7 linked regions of the Homo sapiens genome follow. The protein of the gene in region 6 interacts with the protein of the main gene of each other region in a pairwise test. Each region holds a gene or a part of one and is shown on either strand. Other genes may lie near its edges. The genes, in order: FBN1, MEGF6, ITPRID2, GOLGA3, MEGF8, ATXN7 and TXNDC11.

Region 1 (4,290 bases), on a different chromosome or scaffold from region 6:
CACCCACAATGCAAACTTGACTATATTCCTAATCCAATTTTATTCTATTGATAATGTGGCTACTCCATTTATAAGAAAAATAGTACAGTTCAGCTCATTACAACACCAATTCTATTAGCAACTGCAACCTATTTTTACTTATTAGTATAACCCCTAATTTAAAAAATTGAGGTGGATTACACCAACAGATACATACATTTGAGGCTATAAATAGAAATTGAAAATAAAATTCCATACAGAAGAAAGTTAAAACATACCAAAGTTAATAAATTAGAGTGATTGCCCATTAAATTTATTTCATGTATAATCTTAAAAGCTGATTTTCTTAAAAGCAAATGGAAAATGGTTAGATGTTTTGAAATTCTCATATTTGAATAAAACAAAACATACTGCTTCATTAGGAACTTTCATTTTATTCCTGACAGTTGTGAGTTCTTTAAATGCAGAACTGTGGACAAACTAAGATCAATGCCCTAACATGAATCTAACAGAACATGCAAACACAATATTTATGGAGCTTTTTCATTCTGAAGTTACAGCAGCAAAATACAATGAGGCATCCTCAGTAGAGAACTAAGCCAACTGAACTTGATCAAGTTAGAATTAAAACTTAAAGTATCTGATTAGCCTTCTCAAAGATCTATTGCCTCACAGTGGTAGCTGGTCTCCAAAGATGGCTCCACTTTCTCCCCTCCCAGCAGACACATGATGCTCCTCACATCCAAAGGTAGGTCTTAATAGTCCATGCCCTTCAATCTGGATGAGGCCTATGACTTGGATGGAATTCCAGGTCATGCGATTCCAGGCTAAGTTTGAAGAAAGTCTGGTAGTTCCCACTTTTGTGCTCTTGAGAGATCCTGAACTGCCATGGAAAAAGTCTGGCTATGCTGCTCTAAAGACCATGTAGAGAGGCCACGTATAGAAAGGGGACAACCTGAGACTATATAAAGGAGAATCAAGGAAGCCAGGCAATGTCGAGGACATATGAGTCCATGTGACCCCAGCCAGCCAGCCCCCAGCCCTTCGAGTTAGCCTACGGTCAATATGTGGGATTAACACATGTGACCAGGGTCAGGAGGCTGTTGTTCAAGATCCAGCCCCAACAGACACTCACTCTGAGCAAGGCCTAGTCGCTGCATCTGGGGCTCAGTCTCCCCATTTGAAAAAAAACACATTCAATGGCTCCATCCCGGGGGCAGGTTCAGGCAGGAGACTGCATGAGAGACAGCTTTAAAACTTGGAAGGCCCCCAGCAGAGCCAGACAAGTGGCTCTTTGCTTCCTTTATTCCCCTCCTCAGTGGGTCCATTTAGATAAACCACACCCAAGTAAACAGGGCTGCAGGCGCCAGTGCCTGGTCACAGAACCAGATGCATATGTGAAGAAGTCATACTGCCTGTTCCAGCCCAACTGACATTGTGGGGCGCAGAGACAAGATTCCCCACTGTGTCCTGTCTAAATTCCTGAGCCACAGAATCATGAGAAAGAATAAAATTGTTGTTTTAAGCCACGAAGTCTGGGGCAATTTGTTACGTAGCAATAAAATAACTCAAACACTCACAAATGAAAATACTTTGTTTCATGGTAGTAGAGGGCCTAGGCCTGATCTCGTTTCCCTTTATTTTCTCTTTATGGTGCTACAATGACTTCGTGTATGGTAAGTTTGAATATATATGGAGGTGGGAGCATTCTAGGTCCTCCTCGCCTTTGTCTTTCACAACCAACTAGTCAAGTACTGTCTGCATTAACTCTGGAACCACCTGAGTCTCTTCTTTCTTCACCCCTTTCACTGAATTTGCTCAGACCATCGTGGACTCTCACTGTGACTCCTATATTAGCCTCCTAAATCCAAATCTCCCTGTCTTTAGTCTCTCTTCTCTCTAATCATCTACCCTTCACACCTCTACCCAGTGGCAAAGATCTGATCATGTTCCTATCTTAGAATCCTTTACTAGCTCCCCGTCCTTGCCTTTCACAACATCAGTGACATTTATATTTCCACTAGTCCCTCTCCTTTCCCTAACAACATTGCCACCTATGTACGGGCTCACAAGATTGCTCAAGGTTGCAAACTGCACAGCTCCAGAGGGCACTCGTTTCATAGACTGCACTACAAACCATGTCACTTGGAACCATGCCGTGCCAACCCTGCCCAACTGCAGTCAATGTCCTAAGACCTCAGACACTTCATATCCCTTTCCCTTGATGTATTTTTCACTCATCTTTCCTTTATTTCTCAGCTATACTTACTCCAAGCTCTAGTCTATATAATTAACCATACCCAGTTAATCAGCTCATCAAAATTGCTCAGAGTTCAACTATCAAAAACTATTCTATTGAACATGTGCCGCATACCCAGTTCCTAGATGTTCCTAGAGATAAATAAAACAAGCAAGATCTCTGCCTTCAAGGAGTTCTCACTCCTAGTAGACAGTCACTTTTTATCACGTAGATCAGAGGTTGTTAAACTTTTTCTGTAAAGGACCAAAGAGCAAATGTTTCAGTTTTATGGGCCATACTGTCTCTGTTGCAACTACTCCACTCTGCTGCTGTAGGGAGAAAGCAGCCATACATAATAAGTAAATAAACAGGCATGGATTTGTTTCAATAAAACTCTATTTTCAAAAAAAGTGAGCTTGGTCTTCAGTTTGTTGACCACTGATAAACTTTTTTTTTTTTTTTAAGACAGGATCTTGTTCTGTCGCCCAGGCTAGAGTGCAGTGGCATGATCATAGCTCACTGCAGCCTCAACCCTCTGGGCTCAAGTGATCCTCCTGCCTCAGCCTCCCAAAGCACTGGGATTACAGGAATGAGCCACCATGCCCAGCCCTAATAGACTTTCACTGTAAAGTCACTTCTGATCAATCCCATTCCCACAATGATGCTTCCCTTGGCTTGTAACAGCATCTGCCATCAATAAATGTTGAGTCTTTCCACATAGCAATGGTGGGAGAAGATTCTTGGGAAACGAAGGTATAAAAGGTATGAAAGAAAAAAATTTACCAGCTACAAGATTTATTATAACTGTAAAGCAGTAAAATATTAAGATTAAGAGCTCCAGCTATGAAGCTAGATTTTCCAACTCTACCACTTACTAGTTTATGTCCCTGGAGTAATTACTGAAACTCTGCATCCCTTGTTTCTTCATTTGTTAAATGAATAAATAAGCTTAATTTTCCTCATAAAGGATTTATGTTTTAAAGGAATTAGTATTTGCAAAGTACAATCATAAGTGATACATCAGAGCTTTTTTTTTTTTTTTTTACCATTATGGCTGCAATTTAATGTAAAAAATTGGGCTGAGTTTACAGGCAACCAAGGTTAAAAAATGAAAAAGAAATAATTAAATAACTCATATGACTGGTCGTGATTTAAGACACATACCAATTTCCACTGGAAAGAGAAATACTTCTTGCAACCCTATTCAGAGAGATTTCTCACAGGGGACATGACAGCAAGAGGGTTCTGAACAACATAAACAGCAATGCCTCCAGCTCAGAAGCCCACACAACGCCCAGCAGGCTGCCTGCAATGGTTACCTACCACCCTCACACAAGTCAAGGTCTAATATTAAAATATAATACGCTGTCCAAAGTCCCACTGGCTCTAACATCCTATGATTCTTTCTGTTTTATTAATGTCTTTGCAGAAAGTTTCTTGTTGGACTAAATAATACTGTGTGATTAACCATACTTAGGATTTGTGAACTAGCATGAAAGAATATTAGGAATTTTAAGTGGAATTTTACCAATGTCTTGGGCCTGCATTTTTGTCTGGTGGAATGAAAAACCAAAACCATAACTAAAATTAATGGAGAAAGAAAAGTTAACGTTAAGTTTTGTCTTTAGAACTTAACCTCTGCATACCTCGGCTCTCACATCTGTGAAGGGAAGCTTATGAAAGCACCCAGCTTGTAGAGTGGCTATGAGGATTCAATGAATTATCATATGCAAAACAGTAAGAACAGTGCTTAGCAACATATAGTGCTTAGTAACATATAGATGTTACCTAAATGTTACCTACCATGGCTGCAATTGTTATTATGTATTTGTTTAGACTTAATACCAGACCCCCTTTCCAGGGACGCTGTCCTTCTGTGCACTCACGGTTCCTGAAGTACCCCCAGGGTTATGGGGTATATGTCTCTGGCCTTCCACAGAACTAAACTCAAGCTAGCATTCAATCAAGACTTCCTGAATTAATGAACTTTCTGAAACCCCACTTAATGATGAGTTAGTGGTAAAATGCTTATAATAGGATTCTTGTCTTCAATGATTTAACTATCTAATGAG
Region 2 (4,290 bases), on a different chromosome or scaffold from region 6:
TAAACTTTCTGCCTTTGTGAGAGGAAGACAGCCAACCCTAGAACCTGTCCCCCAGGTGGCCCCGTGAGCTTTCCTGGCCGTATGTGCTGGGCTCTGCAGGGCTGGTTGCCTGGTGGTGGTGGGGACCCCAGGCAGCCACACAGGGCTTCCTACCTCTTCCCTGTCAGTGTGCCTCCCTTCCCCACTTTGTCTGCCCTTTCTATTCTACAGGGTGCTGGGGAACCCCCGTATTCATTCCTGGGTGCTGCACCCCTGGGATCGTGCTGTACCCTCCAGGCTGCCTGCAGCGTTGAGGGGTCACCTCCCCTTCTCCAGGCCTCCTCTTTCTGTCTCGGCTTCCGCCTGCCTCTCAGATGAGGATGTTTGTCTTTGGATTCAGGGCCAGCCTGGATAATGTAGGGCTACTATGGCAAGCACTGTTGCAAGAAATGCAACTGTGCCTAGTCTCCAGGTCCTGGGGACTAGGACGTGTATGTAGTTGTGGGGGTACCTTCAGCTGACTACCGCCTTCAGTAGGAGGAAGGACGTGGGGCAGGACCCAGCCAGAGAGAATTGTTTGGGGAAGAAAGGCGAGGACCTTTCTAGCTCTGGGGCCACCTGCGGCTTGGGCCTGGGACCTTGTCTACTGGGGCCACGTGTCCTTCCCGCTTTGAGGCTCTGAGATCAAGCTTAGTGACCACCAGGGGACAGAAGTCAGGCGGCTCCTGATGGGGGCCAGACTTTGGGGAGAGTGGGGCGTGAGCTTTGTGCATCTCTCCAGTGTGGGCCGAGGAATGTGCTCTTCCACCCGCCCTTGCCACAAACCCTGGGGGCAGGGGATGTAGGGGACAGACCAGCCAGGGCAGACGGCCACATCCGGAAGGCTCACCTAGTGCCCTGGCGGGGGCTGCTCCCAGCTCCTGTGCTGGGCCCTGGGCCCCCGCGCATCCTACCACATGGGGGGACCACATGTGGTAGGCTGGCTGCCACCAAGGTTCACATGGAGCCCCGCTGCCCCCAGGCTGCCCCAAGGGCTACTATGGCAAGCACTGTCGCAAGAAATGCAACTGTGCCAACCGGGGCCGGTGCCACCGCCTCTACGGGGCCTGCCTCTGCGACCCAGGGCTCTACGGCCGCTTCTGCCACCTCAGTGAGTCTCACTGCCCCTTCCAGTGTCCATGGTGGTGGCAGCGGGTGGAAGGGATGGTCCATGTCCTGTTACCTGTAGTCTGGGTTAGGATGAGGCTATCGGGGCCCAGCCAGGTCACCCACTGGGATGTAGGTCTGGGGTCCGCCATGAGTCTGTGGACTCCAAGCCACATCCTCTCGACTGTGACTGTGCTGGCATCCAGGGCGTCTGGGTGGATGGTCCCCAACCTTGTGCCTCCCAGCCTTGATGGGTGGTAGGGCTGCAGATGAGGGCAGGGCCAGGCCTTTTGCAGAAGCCTCCGGGGGATGAGGCCTATCTTGGCTTTTGGAGATTCCTGGCAGCAAGGCCAAGCTCTGAGTCCCTGGTGGGGTCACCCATCCCTGGGGTTCAGACACTCAGGGAAGGGGCGGTGGGCTGCAGGGGGAGAGGTGGAGGAGGACAGCTCCCTACATGATCTTGGCTGTCGTCCTGGCTGACCCAGGGCTGGTGGAAGCGGTCTGGGAGGGTGGGGCTTCAGACGGGAGCCCCCCTCAACGGTTCTGTGGGTGCAGCCTGCCCGCCGTGGGCCTTTGGGCCGGGCTGCTCGGAGGAGTGCCAGTGTGTGCAGCCCCACACGCAGTCCTGTGACAAGAGGGATGGCAGCTGCTCCTGCAAGGCTGGCTTCCGGGGCGAGCGCTGTCAGGCAGGTGAGTCCAGGCATGGGGTCTGGGGGCGGGGGGCGCCAGGGTCGGTTAACCCCACCCACCCCTCTCTCACGCCCTGCAGAGTGTGAGCTGGGCTACTTTGGGCCGGGGTGCTGGCAGGCATGCACCTGCCCAGTGGGCGTGGCCTGTGACTCCGTGAGCGGCGAGTGTGGGAAGCGGTGTCCTGCTGGCTTCCAGGGAGAGGACTGTGGCCAAGGTGAGTGGCCGGCCCCTGGGGCTCCCGGCAGTCTCATTGTGGGGTGTAGGCTGCCTGCCTGGCTGGAGGGTAGGCTTCAGAAGGGCTGCACAGCTGTCACTATCGGCCCCCTTTGCCTAAGCCCAGGTGGTGCCTTGCTACCGGTGTTGCCTTGCTACCGGTGTTGCCTTGACGGCCTGTCACATGGCAGTGGTGCGGCTGCTAGTCTCAGTCTGGTCTGCTCAGGGCAGCAGCTGCTGTCTGCCCAGGGCCTGACCTGGGGAGGGGCCAGTTTCTCTCCAAACTCCTCCCTGGTCCACTTGCTTCTTGCTTGACCAGAACAGACTGGGCTTCTCTCAGAGGCCGGGGCAGCAGCTCCCTCCTCACATGTGAGCCGGCAGCAGAGGCTGCCCCTGGAGGTGGCGGTTCAGAGAGTGGTCTGGGTGCAGTGCCGGCCTGGGGTCGTGGCTGCAGGCCCCTGCACGTGGATGCTTTGGCCTGGGTGTGAGCAGGCACAGAGCCTGGGAGCCCCATGCCCACATAGCAGGCAGGGGAGGAGGCTGTTAGGAGCTGGCTGAGAGATGGACCAGCGGAGTCCATGCTTAGGTATTCCTGGGAGACCCGGGGACCAACTGCCCGACGCGATTCCAGCCCAGCGTGCGTGGGGCTGGGGGCTTTGCCAAGAGGGCTGGGAAGGTGGGGGTGTCCTGGCTGCCCCAGCTTGCACTGGCGGGAGGTGCAATAACCAGGACAACGGTGTGTGGTCCTGGCCAAGCAGAAAGCTGACCAAGCTGGTCTGAGGCTCAGCGGGATGGTCACTCCTCAGTCTCATGACCAGGATAGGAAATACCCGAGTGTGTCATCGGCTTATGAGGGGAAGGAAGACGCCCTCGGCATGAGTAATGGAGCTGCCGCAGCGGCCGCCAACAGGGCCTGGGCAGGTCGGAGCCTCCCTTGGCATGGCGCACGCTGTCCACGCCCATTGGCCGGGAGAGACGGGAGCCACGAGGGCCTGCTGTGTGACCAGCATGACCATGGCCTGGGCTGGAGAGAGCGAGAAGCCCGGCGCCAGCCCCCTCCTCTGCCTCCCCTGGGGCCAGCCCCCTCCTCTGCCTCCCCTGGGGCCATACCAGGGGGCTCTCTGGACTCAAGCCCCCCCAGCATGGGCCCTTCCCCTCCCCACCTCCATCTGGGGAATGAGAAGGGGTCCGCAGAGGGAGCAACGTCCACCCAAGGACCCACTAGCCAGCTCTTAGGCCACCCTGGCCTCAGCCACTAAGGGCCGGAGCACTCTAGGCCAAGACTCCTGACCTGGACTGGCAGAAGCTCTGTGGTCTCAGGCCGGTGTGCAGCAGCTCTGAGCGCCCACTTCCCATCTGTGCACAAGCCCTAGGGCTTCATCAGTGCGCGGACATGGGACTCAGCTCCTCCTGACTCCCCAGCATCCCCTCCCCACCCTTCCTCCCGCTCCCCACCCCCAAACGTGTACACACATACATGCACACACCACTTACACACACATACACACATACATGCACACACTGCTTACACACACATACACATGAATGCAGGCAGGTGCATGCAGACACACACCAGCAGCTCACCCTCCCCTGATGCCTGTGACCCTCCTTCCAGTCCCTGCTCTCTATACCAGAGACAGTGAACAGGCCTCGCCAGAGAAGCACCTCCACCACTCCCGGAGCCCCCAGTTCCTGAGAGGAGGAAGGCTCCTCCCCTGCCCCTCCTCTGCTCCTCCTCTGCCCCTTCCCCTCTTTTCTTTAAGAGCCTGTGGTGCTCCGAGGATAAGCCACAGGCGATGACATCCGAGTGTTGATAGAAAGATCAACACTCTTTATAAAGATAACATCCCCTCTTGTTGGGTCTGGAAACTGTTCCTGCCCAGCACTCATCTGCTCCAGTTAGTGGAGGGGGGTTCCCTGACGCCACCCAGCCCTGTGCACACTGCCCAGTGCCCTAGGGCACGGTGAGTGCCAGGCCTGTAGTCCCAGGGACGTGCCTGTGTCCCTATGGGCGGGTGCCCCTGGGGATGGGCCCTGGTGACAAGGGTTCACCAGGGTGTGTCCTCAGGGCCTCAGCGGGGTCAGGTCTGCTGCTCCGCCTGTATTACCGGTGCTCCTCCCCAGGCAGGGCACATCCTGGCTCTCAGCCCCGCTGTGGGCCTTCTGACACGTGGGCTCTGTGGATCTTTGGCATGCAGCACGGGGTCTCTGTCAACTGCCTTCTTGGGGCTGCTGTGATGCCATTGTGAGCCCAGGGAGAGG
Region 3 (4,290 bases), on a different chromosome or scaffold from region 6:
AGAAAAATCCTAAAACTTAACAGCTAAAAATGAGAAGTCAAGTACATTAGTTAAATCAATAATTAGTATGAAGACAGGATTAGAAACAGTTACTAACACATCAGTAGCTTAAAAAAGATTATGTGTATATCCAATAATGGTTATATTTAAATAAAAATTCATTTAAAGGTCAAGAAGACCACACAGTCAACTTCTTACAGAAATGCTGAGATAAAAGTTCTCCTTCTTAAGTTTTTCCTTTACATCTAAAAGATGAACATCTGCTTGAGAAGGATCATTTTGGTTTAACTTGTGAATCATTCACACTACTAATCTATGGCTTCAGAGAGTTACCATGACGTATTCAAAATAAGCCATTCAAGAAGAACACAAGAATTAATGAAGCAAGTCATTTGGAATAATTAGAAATTCAAGAACAGGATTTAATAACTTTTTATAAATAGTTATAGGCTGGGTGTGGTGGCTCACACCTGTAATCCCAGCATTTTGGGAGGCCGAGGTGGTCAGATCACGAGGTCAGGAGTTTGAGACCAGCCTGGCCAACGTAGTGAAACCCCATCTCTACTAAAAATACAAAAAATTAGCTGGCTGTGGTGGTATGTGCCTGTAATCCCAGCTACTCAGGAAGCTGAGGCAGGAGAATTACATGAACCCAGGAGGCAGACGTTGCAGTTAGCCAAGATTGCACCACTGCACTCCCGGGTGACAATGCGCGACTCCGTCTCAAAAAAAAAAAAAAAAGAAAAAACATCGTTATAAACATTCATAACTATTTTAAACAGTCTACAAGACACTTTATAAGGCAAGTTGACTTTTAACTGAAAGTCTCTGGCCTTTTCCTTTTCTAACATAAGAAACAGACACTTCATTGTACCAGGCCAGGAGCAGTCTCATCATCTATTTAGCTCTCTTTACATTTAAGTATTTTGTCTCTTTGCTTCTGGTGACTGTTGGATCTTACCTCTTGTCTCAGATGGATTAGGCAGCTTCATGCAGTCAACATATCTGCAACATTTTCTCCTTCCTAGCTTCCTAAAGCAGCTCATGCTCAGATAATGTTTCTGAGAACTGATTTACTGAGACAGAGGGAGCTCTAACTTATATTTACTCATGGTTTTCACAAGAAGAAAATTCCCAGCAAGAATCAAACCTCATGGAAAGAGGTCCAAAAGAAAAATAGCAACAAACTACACTGAATAGGATCTAAAAGTCAGTTTCAATAAGATTGTTCTCTTCATTTGTCAATATGATTCAAGTGTTTGGGAGAAGAGGAAATTAAAGTTAACACATTATTTCCTTTATCCATTGTTCTACAAGCTCTCTTTAATGTTCCCTTAGGGATGAAAACACACTTCCAGGAGGTTTTTATCCATATTTTAAATATATCTGAAGATACATTATTTTCTTTAAAATTCCCCATATTTACAATGTAGCTGTGGTCGACCATAAATTCATTTAAAAAAAAAATCTCCCATTATTCTTCCACCAATGCATGTAATCTTGTACTTCAAAAAAATGTTCACGTCAATGCTACATTGCTTTCTTCATTAACCTTTTTTGCCAGTAGAGGGGGCAAAAAACCCCCAGACTATCATTAAAGGTTAACTTGCCACAAAAGTACATCTAGCACTTTATAAGTGTTTAAAAAACCTTTTGTGTATGGCATCTTAAAAAATTTTAAAAACTACAGCTTAGAATTCAGGAATTTTAGAAATTAAAAATAAACTTCCTTGACTTCTTTGAAGAGTGACTTACTTGAAAATATGAGTGTTGTTCACTCGGAGTCGCCAATATCAGATTTGCAATTACCTAACATAATTTGTTTAGATCTTTATGCTCTGCTATTGTATTAAACAAGGAAATTAACTGCCATATCTAATTGTCATAGAAGAGGGCCCTAATGGTAGGCAAAAATTTACACTTTAATTATGAGTGCTGGAACAAGTTTAGACCAAAACAAAGTCAAAAAGTTATCAGAGTGAAAAAGAACAAACAGAGGTTTTAATGTAGTCATCACAGTCATCTTCCATACTCATTACGATGAGAAATAAATTATACCAGGAGGTAAAAAGATAGAAGAAATATAAACATATACAAAGAAATAAAAGAAAAAAAGCTCAAAATGTAAAATATTCCAAGGTGCTGCTCCTACTCCCTTTTTATTTCACTATTCAGTTGTAATTAAAGTATTAACAGACCACAAAAAGGCAAAAATCTGTATCAGCAACTGAAATTTTACAATAAATGAAAAATCTTCACTAATCTGAGGGAGGGAGGGAGGGAGCAAGAGAGAGAGACACTCACCTAAGAGGACATTTATGAGCTGAATCAATTATTTCATTTTCTAATTCCCTAAAATAATGGTGTGTGATGTTAAAACTACTGTGAACTATTACTAAAACGCATCTAATGTAATAAATTACAAAAGACAAATTGCGCATTATATAATTTATAGCCACAACTCTTCATTAGCATACATATGCCTCAGTTTCCTCATGTATAAAATGAGACCACTACCATGTGCCTCACAGACTGCAATGAAGTACTTCAAGAGCCAAGAACAGTGCCCAGCACAGGGTAGATGCTTGGTAAAATCAGTTTTCCTGCCCCAAGCTATTCAGCTCCTACTATTCAGAAGCAGTTTTAGCTGAACCTCATTCAAAATAAGTATCTTTTATCTTTTCCAATTAAAAATTTATGTTAACTATCAGGTATATTACTGGACACAAATAACAAGTAACCAAACATTGGTCTTTTGGGCTTGCAGAAACCCTATTCAGTGGCCTTTCAAACCTGCTAATTCTAGGGTCCCTATCCTCCCCATGCAGGTACGTAATATCTTCATGTTCTTTCCAGTCATATAACAAGAACTATCCCCAAAGCCGCCTTCACATATCCTTACCACTGAGATATGTTAAGAAAAGCTTGCCCAAAGGCATACAGTCATTCAGTGGCAGACAAAACTCAAAGCCCTGTTTGATTTCAAAGCCTGTGTTTCTAACTATTATGCAATATTGCTTTGAATTTAAATATACTCTCTCAGGGCTTTCTTGAGCATCAAAATCTTACCCTTGAGAGAGAAAAGAGGGTTAAGGTTCAAATATCAACTAGTGGATAAAGATCTGGAGGAGTTACTGAACTGTCCCATTACCTCGACATCACATTATCCTGAGACCAATTCTTGGTTTGTGAAACATAAACCTGGAAAGTCAAAATTAGAATAAATTTTTCTAGTATAAATCTATTAGCTACCTCTCATTTTATAAGCATTTTTGGTACTTTTTTTCCTAGTCTGCAACTTGAAACCAGTCTCAGTAATTTTTTACCTACCTCTTCCATTTCGAAGGAGTCCTTCTGCTGTGTCATTATATTTCTTATGGATGGTATTGTCAGTGGTGCACAAGGCTCTTTTTCAGGTGTGGATATATGGACACTTTTCAGCTCACTGCTATTTTCCAGCTCACTGTGGCTGGATATGTTGAAATCACTATCTAATTTGGATTCTACAATACCAGATTCCTCACCCAGTTTACTCTCATGACTTTGAGTTTCTTTACTTTGTTCATTTTCAGTTCCTTGGTTAAAATTACTATTTGCTTCATCAGAAATTCTATCACTATCAGCATTCTCCGTAACAGCTGCTGAACTACCAGAGACTTCTTCTTTAACTGTAGCCAACATAGAAGATGACTCTTTCTTCTTCATAATTTTTTGAGACTTTTGATCGTTTTTATTGCCACTTTCTTCAATCACTGAAACATTTAGAATCTTTCCTTTTTCAGCTGATGGAGAAGGACTACTACTTTCTCCTTTCTCTGTTTTATCAACACATAAATTCAGTTTTGAGAGTGTTTTCATTAAACGATTTGCAGTGTTACTTCGAGTTAAAGGTGGAGGTGGGTCTGTCTCCTTGTTAGAGGTCACTGAGGACATACTTCCAATTCTCTGCAGGGGCGTCCCGGAGACTTGAGAATATAAAGAAGAAAACGCATTGGCCACAGTAGTAAGCACTTCAATTTGACGAAAACGGCCTACCAAAAGAAACAATATTAATGATATGTTTATATTTATATATATACATACACATATATTAAATGCATATTATTGTTTAGAATTCCAAAAACTACACTTAGATCACAAAGATTATAAAACCCTATTTTTTCCTCATCTAACACTTAAACCTTCTCTACATTCACTGGGTGGGAAGGAGCAAGATTTTTACTCTAAGCACTAGAATTTGTATTTTTAAAAAATCAGAAATAAGCACAAAGCATAATGGCAACATTGAAT
Region 4 (4,290 bases), on a different chromosome or scaffold from region 6:
CCCATTCACCAGCCTCGGCCTCCCACAGTGCTGGGATTACAGGCGTGAGCCACCGCACCCAGCCAATGTTTCCTTTCCATTTAAGTAAAACCAATAAGAAATCTTATGAAAGTCGCCAGTTTAAAACAAGCGAAAACCACAAACACTTAAAACACAGCTGACAATCTTTCTAGCAGGCACTGGTAACAGCAGTGTTAATCAGAGTCACAGCCTCACATTTACAAAGGCTGATTTTGGAGTCATTTCAAAGCCTCAGCTTATCCTCCAAGGCGAGGACCCTAAGGCGAAGAGGTGGATGATGTCATCACACCACCCGTGAAGCAGAGACAGCCCAGAACCGCGCTTCTGCTTGATGACAGCCTGCTGGGTAAAGGCCTGGGTTGGACCAGTGACAATTCTATACCCACGTGTTACCTCAGTTCACCCACTAAAATGATTATATACAAATTACCCACAACACAAACTAAAACATATTTCCTCATCAAATGGAACAAAGAAAGATTTCTTTCAATGAAGTGATTTTCAGTCTTTTCCCTGCCCCCTAACTGCTGACTGGTGGGTGGGCCAGTTCACAGTCAAAGAACCAAGACATGTGAGGGGGGAGGGAGGGTCCTCAGGGGGTTCTGGTCCTGGTTCCGGTGGCTCTGGAGGCCCGGCAACACCTCCGTGTCTCACAGGGGTCAGCATTCCTCGGATCCCACGTGCATGCAGGACAGCAAATTTGCTTTTTGCTCAAGCAAATTAAAAATGAGTTTCTTAGCCGGGCGCGGTGGCTCACGCCTGTAATCCCAGCACTTTGGGAAGCTGAGGCAGGTGGATCACGAGGTCAGGAGATCGAGACTATCCTGGCTAACACGGCGAAACCCCGTCTCTACTAAAAATACAAAGACTTAGCTGGGCGTGGTGGCGGGCGCCTATAGTCCCAGCTACTTGGGAGGCTGAGGCAGAAGAATGGCGTGAACCCTCGAAGTGGAGCTTGCAGTAAGCTGAGGTCGTGCCACTGCACTCCAGTCTGGGCAACAGAGCGAGACTCCGTCTCAAAAAAAGAAAAGGTTTCTTTCACTTGCAAATGTGAGTTCAAACTAACAGCAGATACTTACTGTCATGCCTCCCGAAAGAAAAACCAGAATAAAAGCAGGGGTGCCAGACAGGAAGCCAGACCACGGGCACCCGACCAACGCACTGAGACGCCTTTCATGCAAAGGACCCGTGAGCTCCACTGCTGGGAGAGGGGGAACCTTGCATTTCAGATAAAAGTTACTGGGTTAGGCCGGGCGCAGTGGCTCACACCTGTAATCCCAGCACTTTGGGAGGCCGAGGTGGAAGGATAACTCAAGGCCAGGAATTCAAGACCAGCCCGGGCAACAGCAAGACTGTTTATACAAAAAGTTTTTAAAATGAGCCAGGCAACAGGGCGCGGTGGCTCACGCCTGCAATCCCAGCACTTTGGGAGGCCAAGGTGGGGGGATCACCAGAGATTGGGAGTTCAAAACCAGCCTGATCAACATGGAAACTCCATCTCTACTAAAAATACAAAATTAGCTGGGCGTGGTGGCACATGCCTGTAATCCCAGCTACTCAGGAGGCTGAGGCAGAAGATCGCTTGAACCCGGGAGGCGGAGGTTGCCATGAGCCGAGATCGCACCATTGCACTACAGCCTGGACAACAACAGCAAAACTCCGTCTCAAAAAAAAAAAAATCAGCTAGGCGTGCTGACACGCATCGATAGTCACCGCTACCCCAGAGACCAAGGCAGGAGGATCACTTAAGCCCAGGAGTTCATGGCTGCCGTGAGCTATGATTACACCACTGCACTTCAGCCTGCTCAATGGAGCAACACCCTGACTCTAAAAACAGTAATAAAATGTTTAAAATAGAAAAAGGGGCGGAGGCTGAGATTAACCCAGCGTCTTGCTCGAGGGCACATTGCTCCTGAGCAGCAGATCTAAGAGCAGGTTCCACGGCCGCGGGTCTCAGAACTCTTGATCTTGGGCCTCTAAGTTGTTATCTGCCTCACCTGATGCTTATGTAGCAAGGACCAGCAAAGCCATCCTAAGCGCCTGAGTATCATTTTACAGGAATTAGACTGTGACTTCTGCTAGTAAATTAGCACATCTGTAGTCTACAGTTTTAAAGCACTGAACCTCCTGGCCAGGAAGAGGCATGAGAACTGAGTGAATAACTAAGTCACCCTTTCCCTCTGACACGTGAATAACCCAGGGGGCTAACATAACACTGTGCTCCGTAATCCTTAGATCTCTACGGGACGACTTCTGAATTCTAGCTATTACAAATTCAGCAACTGACCAATCAAAAAGGCAGAATTCGGCCAGGCACAGTGGCTCACTCCTGTAATCCCAGCACTTTTTGGGGCTGAGGTGGGTGGATCATTTGAGATCAGGAGTTCGAGACCAGCCTGGCCAACATGGTGAAACCCCGTCTCTACTAAAAATACAAAAAATAGCTGGGTGTGGTGGCAGGTGCCTGTAGTCCCAGCTACTCGGGAGGCTGAAGCAGGAGAATCGCTTGAACCCAGGAGGCAGAGGTTGCAGTGAGCTGAGATGGTGCCACTGCACTCCAGCCTGGGCGACAGAACAGGACACCGTCTCAAAAAAAAAAAAAAAAAAAAAAAATGGCTGGGCGCAGTGGCTCACGCCTGTAATCTCAGCACTTTGGGATGCCAAGGTGGGCGGATCACCTGAGGTTGGGAGTTCGTGGCCAGCCTGACCAACATGGAGAAACCTCATCTCTACTAAAAATACAAAAAATAGCTGGGCGTGGTAGCGCATGCCTGTAATCCCAGCTACTCGGGAGGCTGAGGCAGAAGAATTGCTTGAACCCGGGAAGTGGAGGTTGCAGTGAAACGAGATCTCGCCATTGCACTCCAGCCCGGGCACCCAGAGCAAAACTCCACGTCGAAAAAAAAAAAAGGTAGAATTTTAGGCAGGGAACATGATAAAGACCCATAGATCCCTTCAGGGAAACACTGCTGCTGCCCCACACGTTTAATGGAGTTCTGTTTAGCAGGAATGTGCCTGATCTAAAGGTGGCATCATTCAGTTACTAAAACATACTTTGGGCCGGGCACAGTGGCTCACACCTGTAATCCCAGCACTTTGAGGCTGAGGCTGAGGCGGGCGGATCACGAAGTCAGGAGATCGAGACCATCTTGGCTAACACGGTGAAACCCCGTCTCTACTAAAAATACAAAAAATTAGCCGGGCGCGGTGGCGGGCGCCTGTAATCCCAGCTACTCAGGAGGCTGGGGCAAGAGAATGGCATGAACCCGGGAGGCGGAGCTTGCAGCGAGCCGAGATCACGCCACTGCAGTCCAGCCTGGGCGAAAGAGCGAGACTCCGTCTCAAAAAAAAAAAAAAAAAAAAACAACTTTGAATTAAGTGAAAAGCTCACAGTGGTCTCAACGCCACATCCTCCCTCAACACCACGTCCTCCCTCAACACCAGGTCCTCCTGTGACCAGCACACAGAGGAACCTCACGACTTACACTGGACTTTGTCCTGCTGGTCAGGTGGCACCAGTGGGCCCGGGGGCTTCAGTGGGGCCTCGGGGAGAGACGAGGGGCCACTGTGGGATCTGTCCTCCTGGAGGCCATCTTGCTCGGCCGACGCGCCGTCCATGGTCAGGACGACACCAGCTGAGCTGACGCTGAGGGGCTACAAGTGAACCTTGGACAAGCTTGGCTTCTGCCATCAGCAACAGCCAAGAGCTCCTGGGAGGGGCCCTACTGTGTCTCCCATTTTCAGGAGAAGATCTGATGACTCACAAATGACTTGATGTCAAACCAGCTAATATCATGATACCTGACAGGAGAGAGAGACAAAATGTATTATGAAACTTGTCAGATTTCAAGTATCAATTACAAAATTAGCATTTGGTTCCCAATTTGCATACGTACAAGAAACAAATACAAACTTTTTCATTCAGCAAATAATCCTGGAGCACCCACAACATCCTAGGTTTTGAGGCTAAGATGCTGACCCAGCCACACTGGGCCCTTTCCTGAAGGAGCTTAATGTCTGTATCGGTGCCAACTAAAGAACATTCTGCTGGGACAGCGCAGCTCTGAATCTGTGGAGTAGGTGTCACACAGGGCAACTGAGCTTTAAATTTTATTTAAAATTAATTTGGGCCAGGCGCGGTGGCTCACCCCTGTAATCCCAGCACTTTGGGAGGCCGAGGCAGGCAGATCACCTGAGGTCAGGAGTTCAAGACCAGCCTGGCCAACATGGTGAAACCCCCACCTCTACTAAAAATACAAAAAATAGCCG
Region 5 (4,290 bases), on a different chromosome or scaffold from region 6:
GGGCTTACTCTGTCACCCAGGCTAGAGTATAATGGCGCAATCATAGTTCACTGCAGCCTTGAACTCCTGAGCTCAAGTGATCCTCCTGCCTCAGCCTCCTGAGTAACTGTAACTATAGGCACACACCACCATGCCTGGCTAATTTTAAAAAAATTTTAAAGACGGGGGTCTTACTATGTTGCCCAGACTGGTCTCGAACTCCTGGGCTCAAGCGGCACTCCTGCCTCAGCCTCCTGAAGCACTGGGATTACAGGCATGAGTCACTGCGTCTGTTTTCTCTTGGTTCTAATAGTGATTGCAGTAATAACTAGAATGCCAGGAGCGCCTGCCACAGAGCTGGATGCTGTGCTGTGTAGACAGTGGTGACAGCATAGATATGAAAGGCTTTGCAAGACTGTGCTGGGGCCTCAGTGGGGTACAGACTTAAGAGGAAGACAGATTCAGAGACATTAAATGTCCTAGCTGGGCACAGTGGCTCATGCCAGCACTTTGAGAGGCTGAGGCGGGCAGATCACTTAAGGTCAGGAGTTCGAGACCAGCCTGGCCAACATGGTGAAACCCCTTCTCTACTAAAAATACAAAAATTAGTTGGGTGTGGTGGCGGACACCTGTAATCCCAACTACTCGGGAGGCTGAGGCAGGAGAATCGCTTGAACCCGGGAGGCAGAGGTTGCAGTGAGCCGATATCACACCACTGCACTCCAGCCTGGGCAACAGAGCGAGACTCTGTCTCAAAAAAAAAAAAAAAAAAAAAAGTCTCACCCCAGATCAGGTGGTCAGTTAGGCTTGGTGCCTGGAGTGACCCTGGTCTGATCTCAGAACTTGAGTGGTTTCCACTAAGCCACAGGAATCATAGCCGTTATCTATCCAGCCACACATTCATTCAGCACACAGTCATTGAGCACCTAGTATATGGCAAGCACCGTGCAGGTTGCTGGGGACACAGTAGGGAACAAAGCAGGCAAATGTTCTGTCTTTAGGAGTTTGCATTCTCATGGAGGCATCAGAAATGAACAAACAAGTCAGATGCTCGTGTGTTAGACAGCGAGGAGCGCTAAGGAAAGTTAAGTAGGAAGCGGGGGCTAGGGCTGTTGGGGAGTGGGAATGGTAGACGCAGGACACAGTGGCCAGGGAAGGCCTAGGTGAGAAGGAGGCTCTTGAGCAAAGATCTGAAGGAGGCAAGGGGGCTTGACAAGCTGACAAGTGACAGGAGAACCATGCAGGCAGAGGGTCCGCCAGTGCAAAGGCCCCAGGGTGGGAGGGCGCCTGGCACAGTATAGAAGAAGCATCCAGGCAGGCAGGCGAGGCTGGCTGACCCTGCGCCGAGTGCCATGCACATGATCTCAGTGGTCCTGTGAGCGAGCCGTGGTTACTCCCTGTGTGCAGAGCTCATGGGTTAAGTCTGTGTGCTCAGGCTCAGTGAGGTTAAGTCACTAGTCCAAGGCCACACAGCTAACAAGGAGGTAGAGCCAGAATGCAGCCGCGTTCTTCACTGCTGTGCCTCAGAGTGCCAGAGGCCTCAGTATCAGGGTGCTCAGGTCACTAGGGTGGCACCAGGGGCAGCAGTGCTGGAGTGCCAGGTCCTGGCAAGGTCTACACTGTGGCAGAGAAGGTCCGGGGGGTCACAGGGAAGTGACTGGGGCAGTGGGGGTGAGGCCCAGGGCAATGGCTACTTAGCAGTGGGTATAGAGTATTCGTCACTGCTGCTTGGGGGACAGGCTGGCACCGCACTCAGCCCTGATGGTCACCGCCTCTAACCCTGCCCGCAGTGCGCCAAGTGCCGGGAATCATTTCACGGGAGTCCGCTGGGCGGCCAGCAGTGCTACCGCCTCATCTCGGTGGAGCAGGAGTGCTGCCTGGACCCCACGTCCCAGACCAACTGCTTCCATGAGCCCAAACGCCGGGCGCTAGGCCCCGGCCGCACTGTCCTCTTTGGCGTGCAGCCCAAATTCACCAACGTGGACATCCGCCTGACGCTGGACGTGACCTTCGGGGCCGTGGACCTCTATGTCTCCACCTCCTATGACACCTTCGTGGTCCGTGTGGCCCCTGACACTGGCGTCCATACTGTACACATCCAGCCACCCCCAGCCCCACCACCTCCACCACCCCCTGCAGATGGTGGGCCCCGGGGGGCTGGGGATCCAGGAGGAGCAGGGGCCAGCAGTGGGCCGGGCGCCCCAGCAGAGCCACGGGTACGGGAGGTATGGCCGCGGGGCCTGATTACCTACGTGACGGTGACGGAGCCGTCGGCAGTGCTGGTGGTCCGCGGCGTGCGGGACCGGCTGGTCATCACCTACCCACACGAGCACCATGCCCTCAAGTCGAGCCGCTTCTACCTGCTGCTGCTGGGCGTGGGAGACCCAAGTGGGCCCGGCGCCAACGGCTCAGCCGACTCGCAGGGCCTGCTCTTCTTCCGGCAGGACCAGGCCCACATTGACCTGTTTGTCTTCTTCTCCGTCTTCTTCTCCTGCTTCTTCCTCTTCCTCTCACTCTGTGTGCTCCTCTGGAAGGCCAAGCAGGCTCTGGACCAGCGGCAGGAGCAGCGCCGGCACTTGCAGGAGATGACCAAGATGGCCAGCCGCCCCTTCGCCAAGGTCACCGTCTGCTTCCCACCTGACCCTACTGCCCCGGCCTCCGCCTGGAAGCCGGCTGGGCTCCCACCTCCCGCCTTCCGCCGCTCTGAGCCCTTCCTGGCACCCCTGCTGCTGACAGGGGCCGGTGGGCCCTGGGGACCCATGGGAGGGGGCTGCTGCCCACCAGCCATCCCCGCCACCACTGCTGGGCTGCGAGCTGGGCCCATCACTCTCGAGCCCACAGAAGATGGCATGGCTGGCGTGGCCACACTGCTGCTCCAGCTGCCTGGCGGGCCCCATGCACCCAACGGCGCCTGCCTGGGGTCAGCCCTCGTCACACTGCGGCACAGGCTGCACGAGTACTGTGGGGGTGGTGGGGGTGCTGGGGGCAGTGGGCATGGGACTGGTGCGGGCCGGAAGGGACTGTTGAGCCAGGACAACCTCACCAGCATGTCCCTCTGACATGCCCAGGGTTCTCATCCACAGCAGCTGGGTCACCTGATAGGGCCGCCCTGGACTTGGGGTCCCTCCACCTGGGGGCCCCTGGACACTGTCTACTTGGAGACCACTGGCCCCCTTCCCCCAGGGTTGCCCAGATGGGGCCTCCTTTGTTCTGCATTCAGCAGCTATTTATCGAGTACCTACTCTGTCAGGCACTGTCATAGGCGTGGGGCAAAGCAGGAACCAAGAGACGAGGTTCCCTGATCTCATGGGACTTAGGTTCTGGTGAAGGGAGACAATCAGTGCACATGCACACACCCCACACGCATACACACATGAACACATGCACATGTGCACACACAAGTAAGATGGCTTCAGAGAGGGAGAAGCACTGTGAGGCCTCCAGAGGATGTGGCAGTGAGGGACGATGGGGTGAAGTCAGCTGGGCATTCAAAGAAGCTAGACTGAGAACGCCTGAGAAGAACCAGCTACGGGAAGAGCTTTGGGAAGCAAAGGCAGAGGCCCTGGGGTGGGAGCAGGCTTGTTTTATTGGAAGGACCAGAAAACTGGTAAGTGTGACCCAGATCAAGTGTGAGGAGATGAGGCTGGGGATAGTCAGGGGCTGGATCACCCAGGGCCTTGTGGGCCCCACATAGGGTTTTGGGTTTTATTCTCAGGGCAATGGGAAGCTGTTGGATGGTTTGATGAAGGGGAGTGACAGGATCCGATGTACCTATTTAAGAATTTAAGAGGGTCGGGTGCGGTGGCTCATGCCTATAATCCTAGCACTTTGAGAGGCCAAGGTGGGCTGATCACAAGGTCAAGAGTTCGTGACCAGCCTGGCCAATATGGTGAAACCCCATGTCTACTAAAAATACAAAAATTAGCTGGGCATGGTGGCACACACTTGTAGTCCGAGCTACTCGGGAGGCTGAGGCAGAAGAATCGCTTGAACCCAGGAGGCGGAGGTTGCAGTGAGCTCAGATTGCGTCACTGCACTCCAACCTGGGTGACAGAGCGAGACTCCACCTCAAAAAAAAAAAAAAAATTTAAGAGGTCACTCAGTTGTGCTGTGGAGAATGGACCGGAGGGACAAGAGGGGCAGCAGGGATGGTGGGCTGGAGTAGGGTGCTGGCAATGAGGGAGTCTGGCTCAGATGTGGGATGTGTATGGAAGAATATAAATGATGGTGTGGATGTCAGGGTGAGGGAGGAGACAAAACCACGATGACCCCTAGCTTTGTGGCCTGAACTGTGGGTGGCTGAGGGGATCG
Region 6 (4,290 bases):
TTCCTTCACCTACACAATTCACAACAATCCACAGAGCATCTTCTCTGGGTTAGAGAGACTGTGGGAGTAGTGTGGTACATCCCAGTCACCCATGTTTATCAGGATGGTCGACTTGACTTTCAGGAGTCCACCTACCTTGCATGTCAAAGACCGGGTGCAGGGCTTCTTGGTGTCGAGATCAATAACCCCACAGTGGATGTCAGGATCAAACTCTCTTTCTGTCAAAAGAACACAGGCATTACATGTGGCCTGACAAACTCTCCTCCATGTATTTTTTAAGCAAGAAAATAGAAGAAATCAACAGTTAGATAAATTATAGCTGGAATAAAAGCCACATTATCAATAAAATAAAAAATATACAACGTGTGAGTGCTGCAACAAAGCAGCAACATCACTAAGACAGGGGGTGACTACTGCCATCAGATGGTAGAAAAGATATTGTTTAAGTCTGTATTACTTCCTTCAGAAATACACCACTAGAAAGCTACTTTTACATGACACACACACACACACACACACACACACACACACACTCATGCTCTTTAAAACCCAAGAGTGAAAAGAACAAACATATTAACTAAGGAACTTCCTCCTAAAGCTGAAGTTGACCAGTTTTAAAAATAGGAATTCTAGATTGCAGTTGATTTGCTCCCCACGAATGCCCATTTAATATATAGAGAAGCATTATGAAGAAAGAAAATTTGAAGTTACCTGATAATCTCTTATTTAAAAATTTCCTATTATTGGAATTGTCTTCAGGTTTCTTTTCCAGAGTGGGCGGTGCAGGAAGCCCTTTGCCATTCAGAATCTGTCCAGGTGAAGGCAAGGTTGGCTTTGGTATTGAGGGGCAGTTAAGGCCAGGCTTGACTAAGGAACTCACAGTAGCAGGACAGGTTGGCCCCACCGCAGATTTCAGTAGTGTGCCATCCATTTTCGGATGAATCTTTTCCACTTTCACAGAGGGTGTCATGCTGTCACAGGAGGAAGTGAGAAAACCAGTGCCTGAGTGCCTCAGCAGCCCCCAGGTGAATGGTGAGCCAGAGGGATGAGGATAGAGCCTGGGCCTACCCAAGCGCTGCACAGGGCCAGCCTCTTGGAAGGCTCCTTATGAGTTTTGTTAGTAAGGTTCATACTGATTAAGTCTATAAGCCCTTCTGGTGAGGCAAAACCCTCAGTGGACCATCAAATTTGCCTGGTCTTTCATCATTTCAAAAAATTTTACACATGAGGCAATGGGAAACTCAGACCTGATACCCAATGCAATGCAATTTCTATAAGAAGCAAAACATGAGAAGGTCTAAAAGAAACAAAGACTATTTGCAGAACCCTTGGAGAATATCTTTTGAGGACTGCCATTTGTACGAAAGGATTCATCAAAACAAAGTAAACTTCTGAGTGAGCAAATATTTCCAATAAATGTCACTAAAGACTTATGAGAACTCAAACATGCTAAATAACATATCTCCAAGAAGAGGTTCTTTGCTTCTGTCAATAAGGGAGACTAGTGTTTAATAAATATATGTTGTGTCACTAAAGTGGTAATTCTCCAGTCCTTGAAAAATGTTTCTATGACAGGAGCTTAGGGAATACCTGTGCCATTAACAAAGATATGAATCTTGGAATCTTACTGACACTATCATTTTGCTTGGTAAAACTGAAAATACTGGTAGGAAGCTAACAACTGGCCTGGTTCCTATCTAAAGGCCTAGCTCTAAGTAAAGAAGATTTGAATCAATGAGGTTGTATAAACTTTGTTCAGTGGAGTCAGTGCTCTAACAGCTGTTAAGCTGGCCAGTGACTTACACACTACACTGGCACCGTTTGTGGCTTTCAGACTGCTCCCGGAACAAAAACCAAGCTTGCTGTACTGTACTTCTGACAGAAGAACAGGGGCTGGGGGCTTAGCAACCAGGACAAACAGCCCCAAACAACTGTACCTGGAATAGCCTGACAGCAGTAGAGAGACTGCAAGATGTCACATCCTCTCCCAGCTGGCAAGGTCCTTATGCAGCAGCAGGTGCTGGACCCTACCCTGAGATTAACCAGGTTACCGGATCTTGGACCTACGATGTGTGCTATACCCTCCAAAAGCAGGCTGGCCCAAGAAAAGCCATCCGTCACCAGGCTGAGGGATGCCATGACAAGGCGAAGCATGTTCCTATTGGAGTGCGTGGCTGCTCCCTCACGTGACCTCAAGAAACCTGTCAATCTACTGAGTGACCATGGAAACTTGCCAAAGCCATGCCTGGCAGGTGTGAACTTCCTTCAGTCTTCCCTCATCACTGCTGTGATGTGAACCTAAGGCTGAAGGGAGGAAGCACTGCTTCCCTATTTGCTCCGTAGACCCCCAAAAATTCTACAGCAGCATCTGGGAATCTCTGCATCTTTTTATCATTACTATTATCCACAGCAGCAGTAGCAGGAGTGCCAGTATCCATTTGTTAACCGTCCCCTATGGCCAGACACTATGCCAGGTGCTAGACATATATTAACTAAAATATTCTCAATAACCCAGCATAGTGGCTGTTATTCTTAGACAGAAACAGTGCCTTGCCCAAACCCCTACAGCTAAGAAGTGACAGAAATGGGACACAAATCCAGGCCTATGTGACTTGAGGCCTTTTTGGACAAAACTCCCCCACCTCACGAAGCTTCCTTCTCCTCATCTGGAAAACGAGGATAGTAACAGTACCTATTCCATAGGGTTGTTGTGATAAGTGACATAGTACACACATAGAGTTAGGTTTCAGTAGCTAGCACACAAGAATGGATCAATAAATGTTAGTAACCTTATTATCACTGCTATTACTACTCTGAAAAGTTTCCTATGACATGACAGGGAAACATCAAGAAACAATACAACATACATTTGAATTCTTCCCCAAGTAGACTCTCTTTTATATTACTCACAGGCACTCTCACATGCCACTAGTGTACACAGTTTCATTTCCAGCAGGTAAGCTTTAAAAACCCTCTTGGCCATACTCACATTCTACCATGGGGAACTCTACTTTGCTGAATGGGATGCATTGGCCTGGTGTTCCCCCTGAGCTGCAGTTTCTCTTTGGGTGATTTCAACAACTTGGAACTTGATGAGGATGCGCTAAGAACACCTCCACTGGAAGAACGGTTGCTTCCACTTGCACTGCCTCCTTTGCTTTTGGACAGAGAAGGGAAGAAGGAAAATACTGAAGTGGGAGGAACGGCCAAAGGCGGCTTGCTGGATGAGCTATGTCTTCTTTCTGAAAACGAAAGCAAAGAAAAAAAGACATCATGTTTTAGGCGAATCTCAAATGTAATTCTGGAAGAATTCCCTGAAATCAATATATTCAGGTTAAAACACGTGTCGTTAAGTGAAGGTATGTTAAACTCAGCAGACTTCAGAAATGGCTCATCTAGGCCCCACAGACTTACTTAGCATTCTAGGAACGGGTCCTTCTCTTTCTGAAGTATCTCAGCATAAAGAGTTTTATCACATACACCCATCAGGAAATTAGACAACCATCGTAAACATGAGAATATTGCCTTTTGGGTTTTGCGTGCTAAAAATGAACCTCATTGGCTCCAACTTGCATTAAGAGAGAGGAAAATTATTCATTCATCTGCAGAGCTCTGCTAAATGACACTGCAAGCAATTCTTTCTTCCTTTCTAACACCGCACCTCTCTGATTTTCAAAATAGCAAAATCTTAAGAAACAAGTTGTACCTTCTTTTTTTTCCCTGTCACTACCCACCAGCAGATGACACCAAATAAGAATGTTTCTAGGGTTATCTTATCGTTCCCTAAGAATCTGTGCTGAAATTTTCCAGTGAATCATTTCACTTCCCACCCCCCCTTTTTTAATAATCTCACTTGACTACAGATGGCATAGCTCCGGTTCACACCGCTAAGATGCCAAAGGCGCAAGACAAAAATACCACAAATAGCTACGCCTGTTTTTTAAACCAGGAAGTAATTCATGGTTAAGTACAGACTACAAAGGTTTAGCTGAAAATAAATCTATCCACTGGAGAATCAGGTTTTCTTAGAGTAAGGTAATCCATACTAATATAAATCAAGAGCTGTTGAAGAATGTTACCATCAGAAACAAGTAAATCATTTGGTAACTTTATCCGCTTGAGTACCTTAGTGGCTGCCTTTAATTAATTAATTTAAAATTACACATTTGCTTAACTCTAAGTTTTAAAATGCATGTGATCCAACACTGCCTTATCACAATACAGGAGCTATATAAGTATTTAAAACATTAAGCACATGATGATCAATGACCACAAGTAAGACTTCAATGG
Region 7 (3,427 bases), on a different chromosome or scaffold from region 6:
TGTAATCCCAGTGCTTTGGGAGGCTGAGGTGGGAGGATCGCTTGAGGCCAGGAGTTTGAGACCAGCCTGGACAATATAGTAAGGCCTCATCTGTATAAAAAGTAAGATAAAAAAATTAGCCAGGCAAGGTGGCACACACCTGTAGATCCAGCTACTTAGGAGCCTGAGGTGGGAGGATCACTTGAGTCCAGGAGTTCAAGACTGCAGTGAGCCGTAATTGCACCACTGCACTCCAGCCTGGGCAACAGAGTCAGACCTTGTCTCAAAAACAGAAAACCAAAAAACCCCACAACAACTGAAAACACATCGTGGCCCTGTCAAGTGGGCCCATGGAAGAATACCAGACGCTGGACCTGCCCCCACGTTCTGCGGCACAAGCCTGGTCTTGTAAGGCAGAGTAAACGTGAATTACTTCCCAGAAAAAGCTGCCAAGATCCCTCAGGATGTCTACCTCCAGACATTTACAGGACAGTGACATCCGTGAGCATGCTATCTGCTAACTAAGAGGTCTTGGTGCACTCTCCATCAATGTCCCTAATGGGCACACTAAAATACTGCCACACTTTGTGAAAGTAGCAGGGACAGAGAATGTCAACAGTCTACTTCCAGGAAAGCAGTCATGTGAAACTATGGTGGGAAGAGGTCCCCATGTCTATGCAACTCTCCTCTAACCCTGAGGGAGTGGCAGGGCACACCTCTAAAAAACTGTGATTCTTCCCCTGGGACACATCAGAGTCTCTTGGTGGACAGGAGCACCCATCTCCCCCTCATCACCCTGGCCCAGGGCCAGGCCAGAGCACCTATATTTTGCAATGTCACACAGAGTCTGACGCAAGTGCTGGCTGGAGGAGCACCTGCTCGGTGGAGCAAGTGGCTCCAAGATGCCTCTGCACAGGAAGGCTATGTCTCCCTCAAGGCCCCACCCCTTCCTCTTCCTCCCAAGGACAGGCTCTTGCATTTTTTTCCTTCATGATTTTTATAAATCAAGACATGCTCTTTGTAGACAATTTGCAAGGGATGTAAAAACATACAAGCAGCACCTTCAAATCACTTGCAATCTCACTCCTCTGAAGTCATCAATGTTAACACCTCAACATTTTCCCCTCTGTGAACATCTCCACCTAGCACATGCACAAGTTTATATTTTATCACAGTAAATATACAATTTCATATTCTTTTCACTAAAAATAGCATAAGCAGGTGGACAATGAAAAAGGTCTTACTACATGTTATCCAACAGCCTTTTTCATTTCCTCTTTTGCAAGCTGTCAGCTCACGCTGCTTGCCCATTTACCTTCTGGCTAAACCAAACACTCGCTTGGGACCAGCTCATGATGAGCATACTTTACTTCTACCATTTATTTTTAGGAAATGAGAAAAATTCCATTCCAAAGCCATAAAGCTTTGGTTTACCAACATCCTTACATTAAAAGAGAAGTGGACAGTCTTCTTATGTTCGATATTTAGAAACGACAAGGGTAAGGGCCTGCAGCAAGTGCCCAGCATGGGGCCGGAGAAATGCGCACATCTTCACGTTTCCCACACCAGGCAGCCTAAGAACGAAGGTCACTCAGCCCAGACGCAGGCCTCCAGATGACGCCCCACCCTGCCACCTGTTCCGCCTGTGTCTCTCTACACAGATGCATTTCTGCCAGCTGCTGAGAACTTCTTCATTAAAAGGCATGTGCTGGGTGCTAAGATTTTCATATTTTTTCAAACTATGCTTGGAATTCAAAAATTATACGTCATTAAACTACATGCCCAACTCCTGGCCCACACAGATGAAAGTGTTAGTGTTACTGTCCGTGATTCCTGGACTATGTGGTAATTTAAACACTTCTTAGAAAGAAAAAGCCTCATCACAACTCAGTCAGCAGTAGAAAAGGGTGAGTCACATTCTGTTTTTAGTGCATGATGTGACAAGACCCTACTACCACAGAAGTACTCCCGCAAAAATTCTTTGAGATACAAAGCAAAAACCAAGGGAATGATTCAATAGATATGAAGGAAACACTCTCCTAGAGAAACATGACAAGCTGAATCGCAAAAGGGAGGCAGGAAATTAAAACAGCAAACGTCATACATGCGAGCCAGGGAACTCCCTAAATGATGCTGCAGACACTTTCCCCTGGAGAGAAGATACTGTCAAAGTCATGTGAGTGGGTCCCCAAAAGGACTCAACTTTCTAAAAACCAAAGGGAATCTATAAAAAGGGAGCAAACATCCAGTGTATTAGGCTCTAAAGGACCAAGAGTTAATTTCTTTTTCCACTAAAACATCTGCATCTACGTTTACTAACTGGAAGTCCGCTCCCCCTTGTTAATGTCCTGCTTGCAGGGGCTTCCGGGGTAGTTGCCGTTAAGAACTGCACCTGGAATACTGATTAGGCAAGTGTGAAAAAATCAAGCGACCATCCCATGGCGGACGTTCACAGCAGTCTGCACGCATGGGAGAAAACCCCTTTGTAGGCCTCCTGGAATCCGAGAAAAGGACGTGCCATGGGTAAGAAAGCCACCCTGTCCTCTGTACGAGAGGGATGAGGAGCTGCTGGGAGGCCAACTGAGAGACAAGCAAGTGGAAGGCTTGGGGCAGGCAGGGCTCCACAGATTCTCTGCTGTTTTGCCCCACACAAACATTGCACCACTGCACTCCAGCCAGGGCAACAGAAGAATCCTGTCAGTCTCTGCGTCCTCCATATGTTCATACAGGCCATGAAAGCTAAGAATTCTCACGGCCACATTCAAGCTCGGGTAAGAGATAGACTGGGAAAAACAACCTTTAAAAGATCCATACCACACATAACATCCTGACACTACAACCCTTTTATGTCCCTAAGGACACTTTTTTTTTTTTTTTTTTTTTGAGGCAGAGCCTCGCTCTGTCACCCAGGTTGGAGTGCAGTGGTGTGATCTTGGCTCACTGCAACCTCCGCATCCCAGGTTCAAGAGATTCTCGTGCCTCAGCCTCAGAGTAGCTGGGATTACAAGCATATGTCACCATGCCTGGCTAATTTTTGTATTTTTTGTACTGATGGGGTTTCACCATGTCGGCCAGGCTGGTCTCAACCTCTTGAGCTCAAGCAATCTGCCTGCCTCAGCCTCCCAAAGTGCTGGGATTACAGGCATGAGCCACCACGCCTGGTTCCTAAGGGAACATTTTTTGAACATAATGAATGATTTACATCTTAAACCCATTTCATTTTCAGACCTCCACAAAAGAATCCCAACTGCCCACCAGTGACAAAAATTTGGCATTACCTGTTGCAGGGAAAAAACAAGACAGTAGGAAGACGATCGACCATAAATTCCCAAGGAAGGTCATTCTGAGACACGTCAATCCTGGTAAAGGGAAAGAACAGAAATGGCAGATGATCAGCCCAAGAAACACCAACTTGAAAGAACCTTCTCAGATAACTTCAAGAACCTGG

Evidence for each region.
Region 1: the proteins of ATXN7 (region 6) and FBN1 interact in a two-hybrid assay, tested with the Homo sapiens proteins (one study listed by BioGRID and IntAct).
Region 2: the proteins of ATXN7 (region 6) and MEGF6 interact in a two-hybrid assay, tested with the Homo sapiens proteins (one study listed by BioGRID and IntAct).
Region 3: the proteins of ATXN7 (region 6) and ITPRID2 interact in a two-hybrid assay, tested with the Homo sapiens proteins (one study listed by BioGRID and IntAct).
Region 4: the proteins of ATXN7 (region 6) and GOLGA3 interact in a two-hybrid assay, tested with the Homo sapiens proteins (one study listed by BioGRID and IntAct).
Region 5: the proteins of ATXN7 (region 6) and MEGF8 interact in a two-hybrid assay, tested with the Homo sapiens proteins (one study listed by BioGRID and IntAct).
Region 7: the proteins of ATXN7 (region 6) and TXNDC11 interact in a two-hybrid assay, tested with the Homo sapiens proteins (one study listed by BioGRID and IntAct).

What each region holds. Positions count from the first base shown.
Region 1 is NC_000015.10:48,635,373-48,639,662, forward strand, and holds part of FBN1 (fibrillin-1 isoform a preproprotein), read right to left. Parts: intron 1-4,290.
Region 2 is NC_000001.11:3,502,947-3,507,236, reverse strand, and holds part of MEGF6 (multiple epidermal growth factor-like domains protein 6 isoform 1 precursor), read left to right. Parts: intron 1-1,000; coding exon 1,001-1,129; intron 1,130-1,680; coding exon 1,681-1,815; intron 1,816-1,894; coding exon 1,895-2,029; intron 2,030-4,290.
Region 3 is NC_000002.12:181,901,507-181,905,796, reverse strand, and holds part of ITPRID2 (protein ITPRID2), read right to left. Parts: intron 4,032-4,290; coding exon 3,331-4,031; intron 1-3,330.
Region 4 is NC_000012.12:132,818,490-132,822,779, forward strand, and holds part of GOLGA3 (golgin subfamily A member 3), read right to left. Parts: intron 3,823-4,290; 5' UTR 3,640-3,822; coding exon 3,507-3,639; intron 1-3,506. UniProt on the Homo sapiens protein: Golgi auto-antigen; probably involved in maintaining Golgi structure.
Region 5 is NC_000019.10:42,373,738-42,378,027, forward strand, and holds part of MEGF8 (multiple epidermal growth factor-like domains protein 8 isoform 1 precursor), read left to right. Parts: intron 1-1,769; coding exon 1,770-3,038; 3' UTR 3,039-4,290. UniProt on the Homo sapiens protein: Acts as a negative regulator of hedgehog signaling.
Region 6 is NC_000003.12:63,978,867-63,983,156, reverse strand, and holds part of ATXN7 (ataxin-7), read right to left. Parts: intron 3,243-4,290; coding exon 2,990-3,242; intron 972-2,989; coding exon 712-971; intron 219-711; coding exon 136-218; intron 1-135. UniProt on the Homo sapiens protein: Acts as a component of the SAGA (aka STAGA) transcription coactivator-HAT complex. Mediates the interaction of SAGA complex with the CRX and is involved in CRX-dependent gene activation.
Region 7 is NC_000016.10:11,680,908-11,684,334, forward strand, and holds part of TXNDC11 (thioredoxin domain-containing protein 11), read right to left. Parts: intron 3,339-3,427; coding exon 3,258-3,338; intron 1-3,257. UniProt on the Homo sapiens protein: May act as a redox regulator involved in DUOX proteins folding. The interaction with DUOX1 and DUOX2 suggest that it belongs to a multiprotein complex constituting the thyroid H(2)O(2) generating system.